7 linked regions of the Homo sapiens genome follow. The protein of the gene in region 1 purifies or fractionates together with the protein of each later gene. This does not show direct contact. Each region holds a gene or a part of one and is shown in the gene's direction. Other genes may lie near its edges. The genes, in order: SLC5A6, RNASEL, MZT2B, RSPRY1, TTC33, SLC25A17 and PXMP2.

Region 1 (3,500 bases):
TACCCCAGAGGATTGCCTTTGAAGACAATATGATACGCTTGGAGAACAGACAGGGTGGATGGTGAATCCCTAGACCTGGGTTCTAATTTATGCTCTGACAATAGTCGGCTCTGTGCTTTTGGAAAGGTCACTTGAACCATCTGAGCCTTAGCGTGTTTATCTGTGAAATCGTCAGTGGTGGGGGGTTGGTTGTAATAGTGGTGTCCAAAGATTTAAGATTTTAAATATTATGATCCCTTCCCTCTTTCTCTGAGGATTGTGGTGTATTCTTGGGGGATTAACATTTCTTGTGCAGGAGTTAGAAAATCAACTTTCAACTTTCCCATGTTTTCAGTTCCTTCTTTCCAACTCCCTCCCGCACAGAGTGCCAAGAGTACTTTAGGCTGAAAGGCTAATCCATCTAGGAATGCTGTTGAATATGAGCTCCCTCTTCCCTGTTCTGGAGCCTCTAGGGCTGAGTTGGAGTTTGGGGGCCATAGGGTGATAGGGCCATTTGGAACACAGCCATTGGTTCCCTGAAGGGGCCAGAACAAATGACTGCTGAGCTTCACCCCACCCCCAATTCCTGATCTCTCACCTCAGCTACTCATAGAGCCAGATCCTCAGCTCTGCAGCTCCAGGCAACTCTGCCTCAGAACAGGGATTGCTTCTCCAGGTAGGTGTCTGTCCCCAGCAGGATACGACCACTCTCTTTGGCTGGTCCCTTTGCCTCTCAGCTCCGTGACTGGGTTGCTTCTCTCCAGAATGGAGAATCGTCATTCTGAAACCCTGACTCCAGCATGGTGCCCTCTCACCTTTCCCCTCTCACTTTTGAATCCAGCCGCTCTTCCTGCGTCTGCTGTTGACTGTGATGTTGCAGGTAGAGGGGCTGAGAGGTGGGTGGCAGCACTTATCTAGTGGTGTTGGGGAGAACCTTAAGAAAGGGGTTGGCCTGGGGACGCCTGAAATGGAGTCTGTGGCTGCCACAGAGGCAGTCTCACTGATGATCAGTTAGAAGGGTGACACTGGGGATCACAGGAGGCGAGGGCCGAGGCCAGGGGCAGTAGGGGAAGCCCTGCTGCCATTAGTCTCCATGCTGTGTTTCCTGCTGGGCTGTGGCGCCAGGCTGGGCTCTGCTGGCTTAGTGTATTGTAGTGACTGGGTCTGTGCCTTCAAGTGGGGCTGGGAAATTCTGCTAAGAAACTTAGGCTAGAGTTTATTTTTCTTTTGGTACTCGGGTGGAGACCTAAGAAGGTTGTTGAATTTCACAGCTGTGCATACTCAAAGGTCCTGGCCAAGTTATATTGTCTCCTGGCTGTCGCACTCTGATGCTTCTCCCTCACTTATGTCCCCTACCAAACCCATACCAGGGCCTCTAGACCTTGAAGGGCTACCACTATGCTGGCTGGTCCACTTCTGATGGCATGCGATGTACAAGGCCCAAGGGTGAATGGCTACCAAGGCCAGATAGGCCTCACTAAGAGCTAATTCCTTTGCAGCTCACCCTGGACAGTATCACTCCGTGGAGGAAGACTGTGAGACTGTGGCTGGAAGCCAGATTGTAGCCACACATCCGCCCCTGCCCTACCCCAGAGCCCTGGAGCAGCAACTGGCTGCAGATCACAGACACAGTGAGGATATGAGTGTAGGGGTGAGCACCTCAGCCCCTCTTTCCCCAACCTCGGGCACAAGCGTGGGCATGTCTACCTTCTCCATCATGGACTATGTGGTGTTCGTCCTGCTGCTGGTTCTCTCTCTTGCCATTGGGCTCTACCATGCTTGTCGTGGCTGGGGCCGGCATACTGTTGGTGAGCTGCTGATGGCGGACCGCAAAATGGGCTGCCTTCCGGTGGCACTGTCCCTGCTGGCCACCTTCCAGTCAGCCGTGGCCATCCTGGGTGTGCCGTCAGAGATCTACCGATTTGGGACCCAATATTGGTTCCTGGGCTGCTGCTACTTTCTGGGGCTGCTGATACCTGCACACATCTTCATCCCCGTTTTCTACCGCCTGCATCTCACCAGTGCCTATGAGGTGAGCAGGGACAGAAGGGAGAAGTGCGTGGGACACGGGTTGGGGTGGAGAGGAGGGACAGGCACATAGGAAGGACCTGGGACCCTAGACCTCCTCCACCTAATGAGAGGGACAGAAAACTCATTGTGTGTTTATAATTCTTTCTCAGTGATGTTAGGTATAGGGGCAGGATTGGAGAGGAGGGTGCTATGCCGAGTAGGACTCAGAGTGGGTATGGGTTGGATATTCCCTCATGTTCCTGAGCATCTTGAGGGAATTTGTCTGTGAGTTGTCGGGGTGAAGTCAGGAGAAAAATCTTTTTTTCTGTATACCCAGTACCTGGAGCTTCGATTCAATAAAACTGTGCGAGTGTGTGGAACTGTGACCTTCATCTTTCAGATGGTAAGCAGAATGAGGATAGAAACCGAGCCTAGGGCATGTTGGGGGACCTGAACGCAAGCATGCTGAGGGAATTGGAGTCTCCCCTGCTCTCAGATTGGCAGGATTGAAATTCCTGCTAGAGGTTAGCATCTGTGAGGACCCCAGAGGCATCCTGCTGCCCATGCCTTCCAATTCCAGCACAGATACTGTGGTGGCAGCAAGCCAGAATTTGAGAGGAGAAGGAAGAGGGAAGTGAGCCTAGGTGAGGGGAAGCCATGGGCATATTGGCGCTGAGGCCCATCTTTCTTCCTCTCTCTTCCCACCATTCTCCGGCCCCCATCACATTTTTTCCACATGCAACAGGTGATCTACATGGGAGTTGTGCTCTATGCTCCGTCATTGGCTCTCAATGCAGGTGAGGAGTCACACAGCCCCTGGCTTTCAGCCGTGGTAGGTTAGGAAAGCACCTTTGGGAGAGGCAGATGGAGGAGCGTATGTGGAAAAGAACCTGACCTTGAATGGGGAATTAATTCACCGCTTGGGCCCTTGGGTGGGTCTCTACCAGAGGAAGGCTTGGTCCACCTCAATTGACAGCTAGTAACATGTTACCATGCCCTATCTGAACTGGTTAGTCAATATCTTTTGGTGGAGCTCTGCAAACATTTTTCTCCGTTGTGGTGAATGATTTATTTCATTGTTAATGACCAATGCTTTATCTCTGTGGCATGACGTGATTGCCCTACCAGGGCTTCTCCCCTGGGGAACCCTTTTCCAGGGATAAGAATGTGGCTTCTATGCTTACAGTGACTGGCTTTGATCTGTGGCTGTCCGTGCTGGCCCTGGGCATTGTCTGTACCGTCTATACAGCTCTGGTAAGTGCAGTAAGCCGTGGTGTGGGGAGGGGAAGGGATGAAGTAAGGAGGGGACATGGGAAGAGAAGGAAAAGAAGAGATAAGCTGAGAATATAGATGAGGAGAATAGGTGAAATTCTGGGGTGGTAAGATTTATGATAGGATTTAGCAGTGGGGATGGTATATGAAGGTAGAGGATGGGATGGGAATGATGTCAACAGGGTCACAGCAATTACATGCCTAATGGCAGGAGAGTCCCCTCACTGGTAGTATGTTCT
Region 2 (3,500 bases), on another chromosome or scaffold:
GTGCAAAGAGTTCCTTAGGCGACCTTCTTCTTGGCCTTTCCTCCTGGCCACGGCCTAATCCCTGGGGTCATCACTTTGCCTCTCCTGGCCTGGACTGACTTTTTTATTTGCTGCGTGACATAGCCTCAGACCCAAAGTCCCAGTTTCCAGCCAGGCTGTCAGTTCTCCCTGTGTTTAAAGCATTCTCCCTTTCCTCAATTTATCTATATTCTGTCCATACATTTGAGGCCCAGCTCAAATCTCTCTTCCTCCAAGCAGTCTGCCCTAACAACTGTGACTTATATGTATCTTTTACTCTTCATAAAACTAAGTGGTATGGGCGATATACTGCCTTGAAGAGGTCTGTATGCACACATCTGTGCCTTCCCTCCCTAACAAGCCTACAAATTCCTTGAGATTCCTCCCATCATCTTGTTTGCTAATAGCGTGCACCACTCCTTCCAGGGTTACCCAAATAATTAGTAAGCATCTTTGGCTTGATTTATGGCTTTTGTGCAGGACCTTGGACGGCTGGTCCTCTATGTGGTAAAGAAGGGAAGCATCTCATTTGAGGATCTGAAAGCTCAAAGTAATGAAGAGGTGGTTCAACTTTCTCCAGATGAGGAAACTAAGGACCTCATTCATCGTCTCTTCCATCCTGGGGAACATGTGAGGGACTGTCTGAGTGACCTGCTGGGTCATCCCTTCTTTTGGACTTGGGAGAGGTAAGTAAAACTTTGTGCAGATGCCACAGGCCTCCAGGATGGAAAGGGTAAGGTGGTGCAGACAGAAGTCTGGGCTGCAAATCAGGAGACCCAGGCTTTTTTCTTAGCTTGGGATTTACTGGCTGTGTGTCCTTGGAGAGATGACTTAACCTCTCTGGAGTCTGCTTTTCATTTCTGAAGAATAAGGAGGGGAAAAAAAGAGATGCTTGCCTCTCCTATCATGCAGAATTTTTGAAGACATGGTTGTATTACTTTTATTAAAAACCAAAATCTAGCCAGGCGCGGTGGCTCACGCCTGTAATCCCAGCACTTTGGGAGGCCGAGGCGGGTGGATCATGAGGTCAGGAGTTCCAGACCAGCCTGGTCAGCATGGTGAAACCCCGTCTCTACTAAAAATACAAAAGTTAGCCGAGTGTGGTGGCAGGTGCCTGTAATGTCACCTACTTGGGAAGCTGAGGCAGGAGAATTGCTTGAACCCGGGAGGTGGAGGTTGCAGTGAGCCAAGATTGCGCTACTGCACTCCAGCTTGGGGGACAGAGCGAGACTCCATCTCAAAAAAAAAAAAAAAAAAAAAAAAAAGAAAGAAAAACCAAGAAAGCACAAAAAACACCAAAATCTAACGGTTTTCTTTTTCTGGAAAAGGAAAGGGAGGGATGGGATGATCATGATCATTTAGATCATTTAGTCATCTTCAGCCGCTATAGGACGCTTCGGAATGTGGGAAATGAATCCGACATCAAAACACGAAAATCTGAAAGTGAGATCCTCAGACTACTGCAACCTGGGCCTTCTGAACATTCCAAAAGTTTTGACAAGTGGACGACTAAGGTATGAACAATTCCTATAGTGCAGGGGTTAGTCCAGGAATAAGAATTTGTGTAATGTTTTATGTTAGTTTTTCTATCTTATTTTACACCAGTGGCAAACCAGAGGCTCAAAGAGGTGATTTTGCCTCCTGCCCTCCCATCCCTATCCCCCTAGGCTCCCTGCCGGGGTGTCTACTTCTACTTTCAGAAGCTGGCCCTCCCTCTCTCCCATTCAGACCCATGCCCCTCTGATAGACTGTTATTCAGGCTCCCCCTGGATGGCCTTATCCCAGCCCATGAGCCTTTCCCTCACTTAGCTGATAATCCTATTGCCATTATGGCACGAGCAGCTGACTAAATAGAGCTTAATCCAAGGGAAGTGCTTCACCATGAGGTGTTTCAGTCCAGGTACAGCCTGGCTGCCTCCACTGCCTGTAAACAGCCCAGCTCTCAGGATCCACACACAGACCTACATTCTGCCTGAGGAAATAGACTATGAAGGAAAGATGATCTTTCAAATTGCTCTCTTTAAGAAAAGTTCCACCTAACTTGCATTAATTATAGTGGAACTCTACAAAATTAGTCATCATCTCAATCTAGTCAGTACTGTCAGAACTTTCATTATTAATTAACAAACATCTATACAATACCAATTATGTGCTAGGCCCATGCAAGGCCTTGAGCATACAAAGCAGAATACAATGTGTCCCTGTGGGGCTGAGAAGCCCATGGAAATGATGCTGTGGGATGTGTGCTGGGCATCCCAGGGACATGTGCAAAGCACTATGGGAGAACCCATAATCTTCAGGTCTTGGAAACCAACAGCTTCCTATCCTAGACCTGACCTGGGACTCTGCTTCTCCTAATTCTTGTTTTGCTTTCCTTCCCTCACTGGTCTCTAGACTGCACATCACACTCATAATTACTGGCTTACGGTCCATTTTCCTTGCTAGACTGTAAGTTCCATGAAGGCAGAGACTACCCATTGTCTTGTCAGTTATTGTATCCCTGGCATGGAGTAGATGTGCCATGACTCTTTACTAAATGAATGTCTATCAAACTTTGGCTAAAATTTTAACTTGTAGAAACAAAGAAATTTGAAAGCAGCTATGATAGTGATAGCTAATGATTACGTAGTATCATTATGATTATGTGGCAGCCATAGTTCTTGAGACTTTACATGAGTTACCACATTTAATCTTTAGCACAACTTCTGAGACAATCATCTATATTTTGCAGATGAGCAAGCTGAGGCACAGACAAATAATTTTTCCAACTACACAGAACCAGTAAGGGGTGCACCAGGATTTGAAGCTGGGAAGGATGGCTGCAGAGGCCATGTGCTTAAGCCACACCACTACATGAAGCTGTGATGGCATCAAGTCTACCAACTCATTTACTCACTGAGGAAATTGAGGCTCAGAGACCACACTCAAATTACTCATGCTGGACAGTCAGAGATTGGCAGACCTGGAAAGAGGAACTTGTTCTTTTATTTCCCAATTTATTGGTTCTTTTCCCTAAATTCCATGGGCTTATATTGAATTTTGATAGTCTTCAGGTTTTAACTTCAAGTTTTACCTTTTAATTCCCATTTTACACTTTGTTTTTCTGTTGACTTGCCCATTTTCATGGTCACACAATTAATTTTGTCAGCATAGGTCTGGAGCCCAAGTTTTCCAGCTTGTATGACTGTATTGGTTCTTGACTTGCCCCATCCTGCCACACATACGTGCTTGGCGTTTCTCACGGGTGTTCTGCACAGAGTGCACCTGGCCAGTCTCAGCAGCATCCTCACTAGCATTGCTCTTTCATCAGTTACTCTTCCTAAGTGACCCACTGGATTCTTGACTGTTGCATCTTGATCTCGTAGCCCAAACTCTTTCTAAATATGAGAGCCATCTATGGCTCTGTATCTATGAGGGTGACAAGCACAGACAAAGAGGATGACATTACTGTGATATGAAAGGAGTTGCCCTGGGACACCTGC
Region 3 (2,983 bases), about 100 Mb from region 1:
GATCACACCACTGCACTCCAGCCTGGGGGACAGAGCGAGACTCCGTCTCAAAAAAAAAAAAAAACTAGCCAGGTGGGCATGGTGGTGGCGCCCATCTGTAGTCCCAGCTACTTGGGAGGCTGAGGTGGGAGGATCGCCTGAGCCTGAGGGGGATGTTGCCGTGAGCCAAGAGCTTGTGACTGGACTCCAGCCTGGGCAACAGAGCAAGACCCTGTCTCAAAAAAAAAAAAAAAAGAAAAACCGCTAGCAATGGAGATGGGAGGAGGCTTCAGAGCCCAGAGAGCAGCAAGGGTTACACAGGGGGGTAACAAGGGTTACAGCAGGAGGGGGGTCGGCAGAGCCCCACACGTGTGAGCTGGGGCAGTGGGAGGGCGTGGGTGAGGCAGAGCGCTGTCCAGGTGCTGGTAGGCCGGGGGCGGGAGGAGGCAGGTGGGGGGGCACGGTCAAGATGTATGTGAGGGTTGTGGCACTGGAAATGCAGGCATAGAGGGGCCAGGAGGATTAGGGGGTGCTGTGTGAGCGAATGGGGGCTCCGAGAGAATTTACCCAAGGACAGGAGTGGCCTGGAGTGCTGGGACCCTCAGGGTCATTTGTTCCTTGAGGGCTCTGTCCTGGAAGCATAGCCCAGGTCCTGTAGGCTGGGTGGCAGAAAGCCAGGACATGAGGGCACCGAGGCCCTGTGGAGATAGAGTGGAACCTGAGGAGGAGGTGGAGGGGAATGGGGCAGATGTGGGGCCACACCAGGAGTGTGCTGCTGAGTGAGAAGCAGAGGCCACAGATGGAATGCTGAGAGCTCTCTGAGGCCCACATGTTACAGCATCTGACCACACAGAGCTCCGGCTGCCCTGGTAATGGCAGAATCTGGGGTGGAGGACATAAGGGGGGTTGTTGGAGTGATCCGGCTGGGGGGCATGGAGGCCATAGGTTTCCCACAGGACTCGGGTGTGGAGTTCTCCAGGCTGTGGGCCAGGCCCTCTCAAGCTTGCCTCTGAGCTGCAGCAGGCACCCTGGGTCCTCTGGATGCCTGTCCCCCAGCCATCCAGACAGCCTGTGGGGACAACCACCACCAGATTCACTCATACCCACAGGGAAGGGGAAATAGAAAACCCCAGAAGCACAGAGGGGCAATGCTTGTCTTGGTGAGAGTCTGGAGTCATTGAGGGAAAAATAAATTCAGTCAAGCGTTCTATTTAAGTTTAGAGAAACTATACGTTTTAAAAGTTGTCCAGAGCATGCATGTAAGATGACGTTTGGAGTGTGGAAGCCATCTCACCTGAGCTGTGCTGCCTGATACAGGAACCTTGAGCCACACATGGCTGGCATGGTCATTGCACTGCGTGTGGTATGCACAGCAGATGCCAAATGACCGGTACAAAAGGGAATGCAAAAAACCCACCACACCTTGGGAGTCCACAGCTACTGGATCTCTTGAGCTCAGCAGTTCAGGACTAGCCAGGGCAACACAGGGAGACCCAATCTCTACAAAACACAAAAATTAGCAGGGCATGGTGGCACACATCTGTAGTTCCAGCTACTTGGGAGGCTGAGGTTGGAGGATTGCTTGAGCCTGGGAGGTTGAGGTTGCAGTGAGCTGTGACTGCACCACTGCACTCCAGCCTGGGTGAGAGAGTGAGACCCTGTCTCAAAAATAAACAAAAAACCCCAAAGTGAATGAGGCTGGGCATTGGTTCACACCTGTAATCCCAGCACTTTGGGAGGCTGAGGCAGGATCATCACTTGAAGCTCGGAGTTTGAGACCAGCCTGGGCAAAATAGCAAGACCCCACCCATTTCTACAAAGAAACAAGAAAAAGAACAGAGGTGAATGCAACATCTTATGAATAACTTATGTACTGATTACGTATTGAAATAATACGTTGGATATTTTAGATTAAAGTATTTGAGCTAATTCTGCATTTTCTTTTACTTTTTATTTATTTATTTATTTTTGAGACAGTCTTGTTCTGTCACCCAGGCTGGAGTGCAGTGGCACACTCATAGCTCACTGCAGCTTCAACCTCGTGGGCTCAGACAATCCTCCCACCTCCTCTTGAGTAGCTGGGACTACAGGTGCACACTACCACACGTGGCTAATTTTTTAATTTTTTGTAGAGATGGAGGTCTCACTGTGTTGTCCCAGCTGGTCTCTAGCTTCTGGCCTCAAAGGATCCTCCCGCCTTGGCCTCCCAAAGTAGTGGAATTACAGGCATGAGCCACTGACCCCTGCTGAGCCAGGCTGTTTTCAACATTCAATGGTCATTGACTATCTTTGGCGTTTAGGAGGGCCCTCCAGGGACCAGGCGTAGGGGCATCAGTCACCCCGCCCTCACACCCCAACCTGCAGCCACACTTGGTTCAATCCCACTGTCTAGCCCGTCTGACTCAGTAGCCCCTCCCGAGGGAGCAGGGCTAAGCAAAGCTGGTTTCCCCACTGCAAGGCACTGCAGGCCATTCTATTCTGGGCCTTCTCATCCTTCATAAAGTGAGGAGGCCTGAACAGGGCTCCCCACTAACCCTGAGAGCGCACAATTCCTGAAGATTTCCAGGATTTTCTTAGTATCAGTTATGGCTTAAAGTTATGTTGGTTTCACATTTCCAGGGTTTGTCAACCCTGTCAGATTTAAAGATAAGCATTATTAGCCAGGTGTGGCCCCATGCTTGTAGTCCCAGCTACATCGGAGGCTGAGGCAGGAAGATCCCTCCAGGCCGTGAGTTTGGGGCAGCAATGAACTGTGATTGCATCACTGTGCTCTAGACCAAGTGACAGAGCAAGACTCAGTCTCTAAACCCCCCTCCCCCACCACTCAAAAAAAAAAAAAAGCATTATTTGCTCTTTTCTGCTTCCCTCTCATCCTTGTTTCCAGAAGGGACTGGGTCATTGCTGAGGGGAGGAGAGGAAGCTCAGATGGCAGCAAGCTGAAGGGAAGCCGACTCTGAGTCAGGCCCAAGTCTGCGGCCTGCCATGCTGCGTGCTGTGGGGAGCT
Region 4 (3,500 bases), on another chromosome or scaffold:
TGCTGGGATTGCAGATGTGAGCCCCCACGCTTGGCCCCTTGCAATATTTTAAAAGAGAGTGACATAGTTATACAAACCTCTTTGTTTTTAACTTTTCTCAACATCGAAATCTGTGTTACTGTATATAAATCTACAACTGCTTCTGACTATTACAGAGTATTCCCTTGTATGCCTGAAAGTATTATATTTTGTTACATTTTCATCTGGTGATGGTCACTTAGGTTACTGCCAAATTTTTGTTCTTACAAACAGCACTGCAGTGAACAGCGCAAATATGCATTGATTTTTGGACCTGTGTAAAAATTTATCTACAACTGTTGGGTATATGCATACTTAATTTTATTATTGCCAGATCATTCTTCAGAAATACTTGCATCAGTCAATTATATTGTTTAAACAGGCAGCACCTAATGAGTACCTGAAATGACCATACTAATTCCCATATCACAAGGTTATTCTCTGGATTAAATGACTTAAGATGATAGTTTTTGGGGCTTTTTTTTTTTCCACACTAAAACAGAGACCCACAATATGTAAACAAATAAGTGGTGAGTTCTTAAGCAGTTAGAATTGTTTAATGGAAAACATCTCATTATTGAAGTTCCCCTGAAGGACTTTTTAAAGATTTCTGGGATCACACCACTGAATTAAGGTGTATAATGCCACTTTGGAGCAATGTCTAGAATGTTAAGTAGTTCCTTAAGTTTGGTTTTGTTTCTTGTAATACCATTTTATGAAGTCTAAGCATGTAGTGGTATTTCCAGAAGAAAACTTCAAAATGAAGATGCGTATATAGGCCCTTGCTTCCATAAGTCCTCAACCGGGATTGTCGTCTCTCTTCCTGGCATTTCTCTGAGGTAAGTATGAAGGTGATGTTGACCTTCCTGGCTTGTCTCAGTTGGCACTGGGCCTCTGAGTGTAAAGCTGAGAGTAGGCTGTGATCTCCAGTTTTACTCCTGTGCTTTTACCCCAGGACACATAGTAGTCTTTGTCTGTATCCACCTGCCCATTTTGTCTGTGGGTCATTGTGGACAGTGACTGGAAATGAGCACATATGGTATACATTCATCCTTACAGGTCATAGCTCAGGTTGTCTCTTCTATCTCTTTCCTTACATTTGTGTTCATTTCTTCTGTCCCTTTTTACCTCCACACCTCCAGTTTGAATTCTTATTTGGAATTGTCATTTATTATTTCCTCAGGTTTAATGCCTTGAATTTTTTTTTCCAGTGATCAGGAACCTCCCTATTCAATGATAACATTACACGAAATGGCAGAAACAGGTATTTTTAGTTTTGTTTTCATTACTTTATAATGAATATATAATAATGAAGAAAAGTAGCCACCTTTTGTTTTTTGTTTTGTTTTGTTTTGAGATAAAAGACTCCAAAAATACAGCATACATAACAATGAAAAAAGCCCTTACTGTATGGAAATTTCCCTGAATAGGTATAATAGGCAATGCATATTATACCTTTTTTTTTTTTTTTTTTTTTTTGGCATTGATGGATCTTTCACCATACTGTTCTGGAATGGAGAGGAGATTATTTATATATATATATATATATATATATTTTTTTTTTTTTTTGAGACAGAGTCTCACTCTGTTGCCCAGGCTGGAGTGCAGTGGCACGATCACAGCTCAACTACAGCCTCAACCTACCCTGGCCCAGGTGATCACCCCACCTCAGCTTCTCAAGTAGCTAGCACCACAGGCGCATGCCACAATACCCAGCAATTTTTCTGTTGTTTGTAGAGACAGAATTTCACCATGTTGGCCCAGCCTGGTCTTGTACTCCTGGGCTCAAGGGATCCTCCTGCCTCAGCCTCCCAAAGTGCTGGGATTACAGGTGTGAGCCACAGCCCCTGGCCAAAGATATTTTTTGTTCCTTAGTTTCCTAAGTATCATTCTGAAAACAAAGCCAACTGCTGAGTATACTTCATTTTCTCAGTTAACTCCTATGTAGTAAATAAGATGCTTAAAACTATTTTAATGTGAGAGCACAAGACCATAGCTTAACCTTTTTCCAAATAAAGGTACCCACAAATCACCAGACTCCTGTAACTTAAGATGTTTTTACTCCACCACGATGACTAGCAATTGATGATTATGTCCATGCCAAATATTAGCTGCTAAAAATCTATAGACCAAAAGTCTTTCTTTTAATGTGAATTGATCTCGTGTGACATATTTTCACATTTTAAAAATAGTGACTCCATCATATAATCTTCTTGATTTGCTCTTAGATGAAGGATGGTTGGATGTTGTCCAGTCTTTAATTAGAGTTATTCCACTGGAAGATCCACTGGGACCAGCTGTTATAACATTGTTACTAGATGAATGTCCATTGCCCACTAAAGTAAGTTAATACTTATCTTTTATGAAACTATCATTTGTGCTTAAGCACAAGATAAATGACCACAAAGAACATTTGATGTATTGTGTTTCATCTTTATACATTTGGGGTCTGTTTTATTCAGTATTGATTTTGTTATGTAAATTTATTTTGTATTATGAAGAATTATGTCCTCTTTTTTTTTCTTTTCCTCTTTGAGACAAGAGTCTCACTCTGTTGCCCAGGCTGGAGTGCAATGATGTGATCTTGGCTCACTGCAACCTCCGCCTCCCGGGTCCAAGCGATTCTCCTGCCTCAGCCTCCCAAGTAGCTGGGATTACAGGCACCCGCCACCACACCTGGCTGATTTTTGGATTTTTAGTAGAAACGGGATTTCACCATGTTGGCCAGGCTGGTCTTGAACTCCTGACCTCAGGTGATCCACCTGCCTCGGCCTCCTCCCAAAGTGCTGGGACTACAGGCATGAGCCACTGCACCCAGCCCTCTGTCTTTTTATTTATTTATTTTGAAACAGGGTCTCACTTTGTCACCCAGGCTGGCGTGCAGTAGAGCAATCACAGCTCACTGCAGCTGCAACCTCCCTAGGCTCAGGTGATCCTCCCACCTCAGCCTCCCATGTAGCTGGGACCATAGGTGCATGACCCCATGTCTGGCTAATTTTGTATTTTTTTTTAGAGATGGGGTTTCATCATGTTGCCCAGGCTGGTCTTGAAACTCCTGGGCTCAAGCAGTCAGCCCACCTCAGCCTCCCGAAGTGCTGGCATTGTAGGCGTTAGCCACTGTGCCCCGCCACATTCTCTATCAAGGCTTTATTTAATTGCTTTTTTTTCTTCTTTCTTTCTTTCCCTCCCTCCCTCCCTCCCTTCCTCCCTTCCTCCCTTCCTTCCTTCTTTCCTTCCCTTTCCTTCTTGCCTCCCTTCCTTCCCCGGCCCCGCCTAGGCTAGAGTGCAGTGGCACAGTCATGGCTCACTGTATCCTCAACCTCTCAGGTTCAAGTGATCCTCTTGCCTCAGCTTCCCATGTTGCTGGACTACAGGCATGCACCACCACACCTAGCTAAATTTTTTTTATTTTTTGTAGATAAAGGGTCTCACTATGTTGCCCAGGCTGATTTTGAACTCCTGGGCTCAAGGGATCCTCCCAC
Region 5 (3,500 bases), on another chromosome or scaffold:
CATGAAATGTTCCCAGCAGTACATGCAGCAGAAATGGCCGTCCAGCAAAATCCACATTCATGGGAGTCTTGGCAGACTTTGGGACGTGCTCAACTTGGTTTAGGAGAGATAATCCTGGTGAGGAAGTCAGATTATTATAATGCAGAAATTTTAAGTATATTTTGACTTTTTTTTTTTTTTGAGATGGAGTCTTGATGTCACCCAGGGTACAGTGCAGTGGTGCAATCTCAGCTCACGGCAACCTCCGCCTCCTGGGTTCAAGCGATTCTCCTGTCTCAGCCTCCTGTGTAGCTGGGACTATAGGCATGCGCCACCATGCCTGGCTAATGTTTTTGTATTTTTAGTAGAGACGGGGTGTCACCATGTTAGTCAGGCTGGTCTTTAACTTTTGACCTCAAATGATTCTCCAGCCTCGGCCTCCCAAAGTGCTGGGATTACAGGCGTGAGCCAACATGCCCAGTCTATTTTGACATATTTTTGATTAACTGAACCCAAAAGTGAATAGCCGTTTATCAAGTCTATACAAAAAACAATTAGCAAATTACTTCTTAAAGGTATTAATCCATAAACACAGTTCACAGGTATTACTGAACATCTTTTTTATTATAGACACTAATTATATCATGATCAGAATATTTTTCAGTTACTTGACATCATGGATATTAAAAAAAATTTAACATAAAACATTGGCATTTGGTAAACCTTATTTAAATAGACAATAGGCAACTTTTTGGCTTAGTTCTTTGGATCATTACATTTACCACATTATAAAGTGGTATTAGTATCACTGTGGAGACAAAACCGCTGATAGATTATACAGGGGAAGGAAGACAGTAGAATATGGGAGGGTAATGGTGATGAACATTTAGACTGAAAAGTTGTTAGGCTTATTGAGGGGATAAAGAGGAAGAGTAGAAATGTGTGCAAATGAAATACTCATTGTGTAATGTTTACCGTAAACTGGTACCTAATGCATCTCTCAATTTGTCTGGACTATACCTTGTTAGTAGCAGAGGCTATCTAGGTAAGAATTAGCTGTGACAGCTGTCCTGTTGTTTTTCTTTTGGCAGGGCTATATACACCTGATAGCTAACGAAATTTAACTTCCTAACAAGTGTTTGCAAATCTAATATACAGTGCCAAATTTCCTCCTTGTTATTAAGTAAATTAAGATTTTAAAAATGGTTTTATTTTTTACAGTTCAAAATAAAACATTTTAAAAGTTTCTTGCAAGACTAAAATTACTGATAAATTCAAAATATAAACTTACTAACAGTGGTTTTAGTAAATTGTGGATGACTGAGCTTTTTTTCTGGCATTCTTATAAATGTATCATTATTTCTACTTACCAAAAAAGGTGTTTGTCAAATTCTCAGAAATAGTAAGGAATTTGTATGAGAAAATAATTGATTTGATTAAAGTAAGTTAATGATAATCTAAATGAGATTCACAGTGATAGAAACCATTTTAACCAAGTACTGTTTTTTTCTTGCCATTTAGCACTGTCAACTTCTCTCTTTTTACATGAAGACTTAAATCATACCAGAGTTGGAAAAAAGAGTTCAAAGAATTTAGTTTTCTAACATTAACAGGGGAAGAAAACCCTATCATATAATACTTTTTCCTTGCCTCCCTTATTAAAAATTTATACATCACTATCTCTTTTGCCAATAGTGTCTATGGTAATGGAACAAATCTCTAGGACATAATATTTAGTAAAGATTGTCCTTTATAAAGAAAGAAAATACACTGCAGGTGAGACGGAGATACTTTGAATCATCCAATAAAAATAATTTAATATTTAAATTTTTTTGAATAAGAGTACCAGTTCGACTTTTTTTTTTTCTGTTGATATGGCTCTATTCATTAATACTGTGAAATTCTTAGAAGAATTGAAAGTATTTTTTTTTTGCCATTTAAATGTAATTTTTAGGAATCTTCTCTGTTTTTATGTAGATTTAAGCTGTTCTCTTAAAAGACTAGAATGGTAAAAAAAAAAGATGACTCAAAATGTCATAACGAAGGGACACTATGTAAAATATATTGAAAGCAAGCTAGAATTTCTAATATCTAACAATTCTTACTATATATACATATGGACTAAAACCATAGGAAATTATGTATGTAAATAGCACAGGCAGTAAATTAAAAGTCAGTAGTTGGGTATATCTCCATGAATAATTATTTAAACTTTGTAAGAGTTGGATGTGAACATTGGAAAATGTTTATAGGAGATATATATATATAAAATATGTATGTATATGGTATACATTTTATATATATATACGTGTGTGTGTGTGTATATATATATATATATAAAAGACTTTATGAGAATGAGATTTTAAGAAGTGGAAGGATGAGAGAATAAGAAAGCTGAAGCCAGGCGCGGTGGCTCAAGTCTGTAATCCCAGCACTTTGGGAGGCCGAGGCGGGCGGATCACAAGGTCAGGAGATTGAGACCATCCTGGCTAACACGGTGAAACCCCGTCTCTACTAAAAATACAAAAAATTAGCTGGACGTGGTGGCGGGCGCCTGTAGTCCCAGCTGCTCGGGAGGCTGAGGCAGGAGAATGGCGTGAACCTGGGAGGCGGAGCTTGCAGTGAGCTGAGATCGCGCCACTGCACTCCAGCCTGGGTGACAGAGCAAGACCTGTCTCAAAAAAAAAAAAAAAAAAAAGCTGAAGAGAATGGTTCTGGGAGTTAAAAATTCTGTATGAGGGAATGGGGATGGTGAGAAAGGAATACATAAGGGATTTATCCTGAAGAAGAAGGTAGAGAGGGAAGGAGACTGGGAAAGGTAATGAATACCAGGAGGTAACAGTATCAGGAAGGATTCTTCTGTTGGCTTTCCAGGGTTCTCAGCCTTCAGTGCTGGAACTAGCTTTGTGGCTTCCCTTCTTCGGGCTCTGTGTAATTCATTGCCAGCTTTTGCTTTTCTTCATGCCAATGTGCAATAAATACTAATTTTGTTTACTAATGTTTTCTCTGTTTTCCAAGTCTCATTTTAGCCATTGGTTTTAATATTTTGCATGAGCAAATCTTTAATTAGAAATTTCAGTTGCATCATTTGATTCTTTTTATTGTTTCGCTTTTGTAATGGTAGTAATGGGATGGACAAGTGATAATTTCCAGACAAAAGGAAGATGATTGAGAGTTTTTAAAATTTCACTTGAGGGGCTGGGCATCCTGGCTCACGCGTATAATCTCAGCACTTTGGGAGGCTGAGGCAGAAGGATTGCTTGAGGCCAGGAGTTTGGACCAACCTGGGTAGCATGGCAAGATCCTATATTTACAAAAAAAAAAAAAAAAAATTTGGCTGGGCATGGTGGCTCATGCCTGTAATCCCAGCATGTTGGGAGGCTGAGGTGGGTTGATCACCTGAGGTCAGGAGTTTTGAGACCAGCCTGGCCAACATGGTGAAACGTCGTCTCTACTAAAAATACAAAAATTAGCCAGGCATGGTGGTGTGTGCCTGTAGTTCCAGCTACTCAGGAGGCAGG
Region 6 (3,500 bases), on another chromosome or scaffold:
CAGTTTTCTCGGGAACCTCCATACTGTTTTCCATAACACTGTAACATTTATAATCCCACCAACAGTACACAGAAGTTCCCATATTTCCACATCCTCACTAACACTTACTTTCTGTTTTATGATAGTAGCCATCCTAATGGGTATGAGGTGATATCTCACTGTGGCTTTGATTTGCATTTCTCTGATGATTAGTGATGCTGAACATCACTTTTCATATGTTTGTTGGCCATTTGTATATTATCTTTGCAGAAATGTCTGTTCTGGTTCTTTGTCTATTTTTTAATCAGGTTATTACATTTTTTTGCTCTGAAGTTGTAGGATGTCTGTATGTGGTATAATAAAAAATGTATGTGGCCTTTGTCCCTGGTTCCTGGCACAGTTCCTAAAACCATTGGAATTTCCTGAGTAGTAGTATCTTTTGTTATTCCTAATGAGCCCCTTTGAACTATCTCTGAGTTTAGGCTAATAAAGTTACTATTGGTGGGCTCCTAGATAGCTTCAGGATGGAGGCTGGTGGCCAGAGGAACCAGCCATGTGCTTAGAGAGAAGGGGAGAGAAGTTGAATTTTGGATAAATAACTCAGGATAGAAGTCTAGGAGTCATCACAGGCTCTTCGTGCCTTCCCACCCTCCACATCTGCTTGGCCATCAAGAACCACTGGTCTGTCTCCTCACTGTCTCTTGGATCCATTTCCTCTTCTCCATATCCATAGCCATTTCCCCAAATCAAACCTTATCATTGCTCACCTGGACTATTGCACTATAGTCTGATCTTCCCTTTGAGGTCTTCCTCATGAACCCACTTTGCACAGTTTTGCAGCCTTTCTAGGAGAGTAGTTTTCAAAGAGTATCACGACTCAAAGAACTCAAGTTTGAGATTTGTTCACTTGGGGAAAAAAATTAGAATAGTTCCTGTACAGAAAAAGACTTGTTTTTTACATAAATTACAACAAATGGCAATCTAGTGGGATCTTCTATACTTGAGACCAGTTATTTGTAATACTTTGATTTTAATCATTTTAGATTAGTTTATATGTATTTGCATTTGAAAGATTATAACTTACAGGGACTAACTCATATAACTTTCCATGAAACTTCTAATTCATGGACTATATGTTGAAATCTTTTGCTTTTTAAATTGTCCAAAGCGGTTTATTTGCTGTGTCTGCCATCCCATTACCCACCAGATATATACCACCCCTGTGTTACTCTCTCTGTCCTGTTCATCTTTCTAACTCTTAGTGCAATTTAGGATTACAGCAGACTCCCCCATACCTAACACAGCTGGACTGGTATAGTAGGGCAGTTAGCTTTCATTTTTTACTTTTTTCCACTTGTCTAAAATTTTTTTTTCAGGGCTCATGAACAATTTTTTTCTTTTTTTTTTCAGGGCTCAATTTTAAAAAGTCAGTTAAAGTAACACATATAATAAATAGCCTACTAACCTTAATTGTTGTATTTTAACTTTAAAGTTCACTCTTCCACTTTTTTTTTTTTTTTTTTTTTTGAGATTGTGTCTCACTCTGTTGCCCAGGCTGGAGTGCAGTGGCATAATCTTGGATTGCTGCAACCTCCACCTCCTGGGTTCAAGCAATTTTCCTACCTCAGCCACCTGAGTAGCTGGGATTACAGGCACCCACCACCATGCCCAGCTAATTTTTTATATTTTTAGTAAAGATAGGGTTTCACCATGTTGGCCAGGCTGGTCTCAAACTCCTGACCTCAGGTGATCTGCCTGCCTCGGCCTCCCAAAGTGCTGGGATTACAGGCGTGAGCCACCGCGCCCAGCCTAAAGTGTTTTCTTGAGTGTGTGAGAAGGGGGTAGGATTACAGTTGACACATAGGAGAGTCTACGGGTCTGTGTTGACTGTGAGCATCATCTGTTGTCTTGTCAGAAAATGGTCCAAGGCCAGGTGTGGTGGCTCACCCCTGTAATCCCAGCAGTTTGGGAGGTCAAGGCAGGAGGATCACTTGAGCCCGCAGTTTGAGACCAGCCTGGGCAACATAGCAAGACCCCATCTCTATAAAAAATAAATTTTAGACCAGGCGCGGTGGCTCACGCCTGTAATCCCAGCACTTTGAGAGGCTGAGGCGGGTGTATCACCTGAGGTCAGGAGTTCGAGAACAGCCTAGCCTACATGGTGAAACCCCACCTTTACTGAAAATACAAAAAATTAGCCAGGTGTGGTAGCAGGTGCCTGTAATTCCACCTACTTGGGAGACTGAGGCAGGAGAATTGTTTGAACCTGGCAGGCAGAGGTTGCAGTGAGCCAAGATCATGCCACTGCACTCCAGCCTGGGCAACAAGAGGGAAACTCTACCTCTAAATAAACAAACAAACATAAAATATTTTAAAAGGTAGGGAAAGAAGGAAAGAAAGAAAATGAAAATGGTTGGGAGACCCAGCTCCTGAGTCGCTGGCATCAGGGATCCTCCGTGGCGTGTCATCGGCATCGTCGGGCCCCTGGTGCACCCCCGCGGCAGACAGAGCTCACGCCCCTTCCCACCCCGTGGCTGGTCCGGGGTCCGGGCACCGCGTGGACGGTGTCTCTGTAGGACGCAGGGACCGGGCTGCAGCCCATGCCTCGAGCAGACTGCATTACGAAGCATCTGTCATACTCCTGCCGGGACCAAGTGGTATGGGGCTTCGGCCGTGGCTACAAGCAGCTGGGCATCCCCCACAGCTAATTTTCCTGAGCAAGTGGTAGATAATCTGCCAGCCGATATATCCAGTGGCATTTATTATGGTTGGGCCAGTGCTGGAAGTAGAGATGGTCAGAAGATGGTGGTGAGCATAGGATGGAACCCATACTATGAGAATACGAAGAAGTCCATGGAAACACATACCATGCATACCTTCAAAGAGCACTTCTATGGGGAAATCCTGAGTGTGGCCGTTGTTGGCTACCTCAGACCAGAAAAGAACTTTGATTCATGAGAGTCACTTATTTCAGCAATTCAAGGTGATTTTTGAGGAAGCTAAGAAATGACTAGATTTACCAGAACATTTGAAACTCAAAGAAGATAATTTCTTCCAGGTTTCTAAAAGCAAAATAATGAATGGCCACTGATGAAAAATCATATTATTTATTCATTCACTGTCTTCCAGTATTTCAGTGTTTTGTTTTGTTTTTATTTTATTTTATTTTAAGTTTTTGAGATGGAGTCTCGCTCTCTCTCCCAGGCTGGAGTGCAGTGGCGTGATCTTGGCTCACTGTGACCTCTGCCTCCCAGGTTCAAGTGATTCTGCTGCCTCAGCCTCCTGAGTAGCTGGAATTACAGGCGCACACCACCACGCCTGGCTAATTTTTGTATTTTTAGTAGATATGGAGTTTCACCATGTTGGTCAGGCTGGTCTCGAACTCCTGACCTCGTGATCTGTCTGCGTTGGCCTCCCAAAGTGCTGGGATTATAGGCATGAGCCGCAACGCCCGGCCCAGTGTTTATTATTGTCCAGCCTCATCTTGGTTATATTTCAAAAATCAAACATTTTCCTACAGC
Region 7 (3,500 bases), on another chromosome or scaffold:
GCTCCTTAGAGCCGCAGTGCTGAGTACACATGTGTGCTGTCTGCGTACACACAGAACAAAATCCAATAGCAGTTTAAAAACCATCACGATAGGGTCTGGGTGCCCGGAATTCAGTTCTGATGGGCAGTGAGACTGTTCACCACCCGCCTTCCCTCCTTTGCAGGGGAAAGACGCCTCAGCCTTCGCCGCCAAGATGAGGGGGGGCTTCTGGCCGGCGCTGAGGATGAACTGGCGGGTGTGGACGCCACTACAGTTCATCAACATCAACTACGTCCCTCTGAAGGTGAGGGCCACGGGGCTCAGCCTCTGCTAACATTACTTTGTCAGCCTTTTCCTTCCTTCCTTCCTTCCTCTTTCCTCCCCCCCTCCCTCCCCTCTTCTTTTCTCTTCTCTTCTTTCTTTGGTAGTTTTCCGCTAGACTTAGTTTCATCCGTGTCTAGACTCCTCAACTACCCTTGGATTTTGCCCATGACCCTGAATCATTGCTAGTTCGGGATTCAGGAAGCAACAGAGAAGGGTGTCCCGAGTGGTCGTCTTTGCCTCTTCTGTTCGTTCAGCAAATTCTCATTAAAAGCCCCCATGCCAGGGATGCCTATGAGTTTTCTAGCCTTTGAAACATTCCCAGTCCCAGGAATGTACATGCAGGCAACTTGAATCTATGCTCCTGGGTTGCAGTCCTCAAACTTGGCCCAAATAAACTCTAGTTATACTTAGAAAAAGAAGGCCGTCACAGTAGCTCACACCTGTAATCCCATCACTATGGAAGGCTGAGGTGGGCAAATCACTTGAAGCCAGGAGTTCGAGACCAGCCTGGCCAACATAGCGAAACCCCATCTCTACTAAAAATACAAAAATTAGCCAGGCATGGTGGCAGGTGCCTGTAGTCCCAGCTACTCAGGTGGCTGAGGCACAAGAATCACTTGAATCCGGGAGACGGAGGTTGGAGTGAGCTGAGATTGTGCCACTGCACTCTAGCCTGGGCAACAGAGTAAGACCCTGTCTCAAAAAATAAATAAAATGTTAAAAAGAAACAAAGCATTCGTGGTCCCTGGGCTCATGAATTACAGCTGAGCCTGAAGGCAGGCACTGTGCGGCCATGGGTCCTGCCGCTGGCCTGGAAGAGCTGCCTCACCTGCAGCCATGGCAGCCACACCTGGGCAAGGGGTGGGCCCATCCAGGTGCAGAGTGAAGGCCTTCTGGGTAAGCTGAGCCTTTCCGCTATCCTGTGCATGAAGGAGCTGCTGTGGGGGCTGAGTCAAAGGTGTCAGATTGGGGCTGGGCTGGTGGTGTGGAGGCTGGAGCTCCAGGCTCTGCCACTGGGATCAACTGTCTTTATGCACAGCCAGGGTCCCCAGGACCACTCCCACACTGGGAGGATGGGGTGCAGCACCCCCTGCAGCATGGCAGGATACCCCCAGATGCTACAGGAGGAGGCCTGGCAGAGCCTGCAGGGGCCACGTGCTTCCCTCCCCCAGAAGGTATGCCGCCCATCAGGGTTTTTTACTGGTACTCTGGGCGGGCATCTCTGCCTGCTGCCCCAAAGCTCCAGACCCCTAGAAAGACAGCAGCTGTGTGGAGCCTGCATTGTTGGTGCAAACAGTCCAGGCACAGGGCAGGTGGCCCTTCTGGGAAAGGTGGGTGCCGTCCCAGCCCAGGCTGCTGCTAGGGAGGACCTGAACAGGCCTGCAGTGGCTGGACCTCAGCTGCAGAGGGCCTTCCTGCATTAGCACCGGCTCTGAGCCCTGCCCAGGAGGGAGGAAAGGACCAGGGTGACCCCCGAGGGAGAGGAGGGAGGCGGCCCAGTGTGTGCACACTGCACACACCACAAACACACCAAGAAGCAGCAGGAAACCAGGGGTGCACACAGACAGGACAAAGAGGCAGTTCACCCTTAGCCAAAGTTGCCAGGAGTTAAAGCAAAATAAAAAAATTTCCTTTGGCTTTAACAGTGGCCCTTCCCAGAGCAATTTCAGCTCTATGGGGCTGAAGCCAGATTGCCTTGAAGAGTGGGTGGGAATTATTTTAAAAATCACAAGTCTAGAACATGCTCTCAAAGTCTGTGGGGGCCAGGCATGGTGGCTCATGCCTGTAATCCCAGAACTTTGAGAGGCTGAGGCAGAAGGATCACTCAAAGCCAGGAGTTTGAGACCAGTCTGGGCAACATAGTGAGACCCCATCTCTATTTTATAAAAATGAATTTTAAAAAGTTTGAGAGAAGGTGAGAAGTGATGGAAGAAGGCTGGGTGGCAGAGGGGGTTCTGACACTCAGAGATGCGGCCATGGTGGGTGCAGACGTGAAGCTGCTTGTGGGATGGGCAAACACGCATGTCCAGAAAGAGCAGCTCTGCGGGGTCCCCTAAGGAGTCAGGGTGGATGTGAGCCCCCAGCACACTCACAGTGGTGCTTGGACAGAGGCCCTGCCCTCTGTGATGAGAGAGGAGAGAGAAAGTGACAGCTGAGCGGACAGGAGAGTGGGACATCCTGCCTCAAGCCCCCACGTGCCTCTCTGGAGGGCCAGGGGCTGGGACTGAGGGCAGAGGAAGTCAGGCGGGCATTTTAAGGGGATACAGGAGGGGCAAGTTTGGCCATGTGGAGGATGGGAGAGCATGCTGACTGCAGAGACAAAGACCTCTGGGCAGAGGGGGCTGGGGCTTGTCCAGCTGTGGTCAGCATCTGGGGAAGTGAGAAGGCAGGAAGGATAAAGGATTTTCCAGGGAGTGTGACTGAAGAACAGTAGGCTAAGGAAGCTACAGCCATGGGCCACTGGTTCTCGGGAATTTAGAGAAGGAAGCAGAGACAACTGAGAAGACAGACTGGCCGGGAACACGGAGGATCTGGGATGGAAGAGGGGAGAGCTGGGAAGCCGCGCCTCTGAGTAGCGTGGGGGCAGAGTCGCCATCCTAGGTGGGTGCAGGTGTATGCGGAAGCAGCATTCATTCAGCAAGCGTTTCCTGAGCAGTGACTGTGCGCCATGCTGCTAGACTCGGAGACGCGGCGATTAACCAGACACATGGGCTGCTACTTTCATAGCACCACGTGCCAGGGAGAGACTCAGCACTGGGCCAGAGGATTCTGGGGAAGGGTGAAGCTGCTGAGTCACCAAAGCAGGGCAGTGGGATGGTGATGGGTTAGAGGAGGGAAGGTCTGGGGCCCCTCCGCTGTTCGTCAGCTGTGTCCCCTGAGGAGGGTGCAGCCACCTGCATGATGGCTGGTCCTGGAGTGAGAGAGGCTGAACCAGGAGCTAAGGTGTGCGGTGAAGGGGGCAAAAGGAGAGTGACTTGGCTTTGGGATTCCTGGGCCGCTGTAGCCTGTGAACACTGTAACTAGGGGACCGTTTTTCTTCTCCACTCCTCTCTGCTAGGGGCCTAGCACAGCGTTTGGTACGAACAAAGGCTCAGTAAATGCAGTAATGGATGGGTGGTTGGACCAGCTGACCAACAAACGGGTAAACAAATGAACTGGGTGACTGAGGCTGGATAACTGGCCACGGCCTCCCGCTG

What was found.
Region 2: the proteins of SLC5A6 (region 1) and RNASEL purify together in Homo sapiens (affinity purification with mass spectrometry; one large-scale study listed by BioGRID and IntAct). This does not show direct contact.
Region 3: the proteins of SLC5A6 (region 1) and MZT2B purify together in Homo sapiens (affinity purification with mass spectrometry; one large-scale study listed by BioGRID and IntAct). This does not show direct contact.
Region 4: the proteins of SLC5A6 (region 1) and RSPRY1 purify together in Homo sapiens (affinity purification with mass spectrometry; one large-scale study listed by BioGRID and IntAct). This does not show direct contact.
Region 5: the proteins of SLC5A6 (region 1) and TTC33 purify together in Homo sapiens (affinity purification with mass spectrometry; one large-scale study listed by BioGRID and IntAct). This does not show direct contact.
Region 6: the proteins of SLC5A6 (region 1) and SLC25A17 purify together in Homo sapiens (affinity purification with mass spectrometry; one large-scale study listed by BioGRID and IntAct). This does not show direct contact.
Region 7: the proteins of SLC5A6 (region 1) and PXMP2 purify together in Homo sapiens (affinity purification with mass spectrometry; one large-scale study listed by BioGRID and IntAct). This does not show direct contact.

What each region holds. Positions count from the first base shown.
Region 1 is NC_000002.12:27,205,769-27,209,268, reverse strand, and holds part of SLC5A6 (sodium-dependent multivitamin transporter), read left to right. Parts: intron 1-1,478; 5' UTR 1,479-1,618; coding exon 1,619-2,011; intron 2,012-2,326; coding exon 2,327-2,392; intron 2,393-2,734; coding exon 2,735-2,786; intron 2,787-3,175; coding exon 3,176-3,243; intron 3,244-3,500. UniProt on the Homo sapiens protein: Sodium-dependent multivitamin transporter that mediates the electrogenic transport of pantothenate, biotin, lipoate and iodide.
Region 2 is NC_000001.11:182,579,257-182,582,756, reverse strand, and holds part of RNASEL (2-5A-dependent ribonuclease), read left to right. Parts: intron 1-498; coding exon 499-704; intron 705-1,399; coding exon 1,400-1,532; intron 1,533-2,749; coding exon of another isoform or gene 2,750-2,803; intron 2,804-3,500.
Region 3 is NC_000002.12:130,185,262-130,188,244, forward strand, and holds part of MZT2B (mitotic-spindle organizing protein 2B), read left to right. Parts: intron 1-2,983. UniProt on the Homo sapiens protein: Required for the recruitment and the assembly of the gamma-tubulin ring complex (gTuRC) at the centrosome.
Region 4 is NC_000016.10:57,206,829-57,210,328, forward strand, and holds part of RSPRY1 (RING finger and SPRY domain-containing protein 1 isoform 1 precursor), read left to right. Parts: intron 1-764; coding exon of another isoform or gene 765-857; intron 858-1,229; coding exon 1,230-1,282; intron 1,283-2,246; coding exon 2,247-2,359; intron 2,360-3,500.
Region 5 is NC_000005.10:40,724,962-40,728,461, reverse strand, and holds part of TTC33 (tetratricopeptide repeat protein 33), read left to right. Parts: coding exon 1-117; intron 118-3,500.
Region 6 is NC_000022.11:40,788,347-40,791,846, reverse strand, and holds part of SLC25A17 (peroxisomal membrane protein PMP34), read left to right. Parts: intron 1-3,500.
Region 7 is NC_000012.12:132,701,087-132,704,586, forward strand, and holds part of PXMP2 (peroxisomal membrane protein 2), read left to right. Parts: intron 1-163; coding exon 164-283; intron 284-3,500. UniProt on the Homo sapiens protein: Seems to be involved in pore-forming activity and may contribute to the unspecific permeability of the peroxisomal membrane.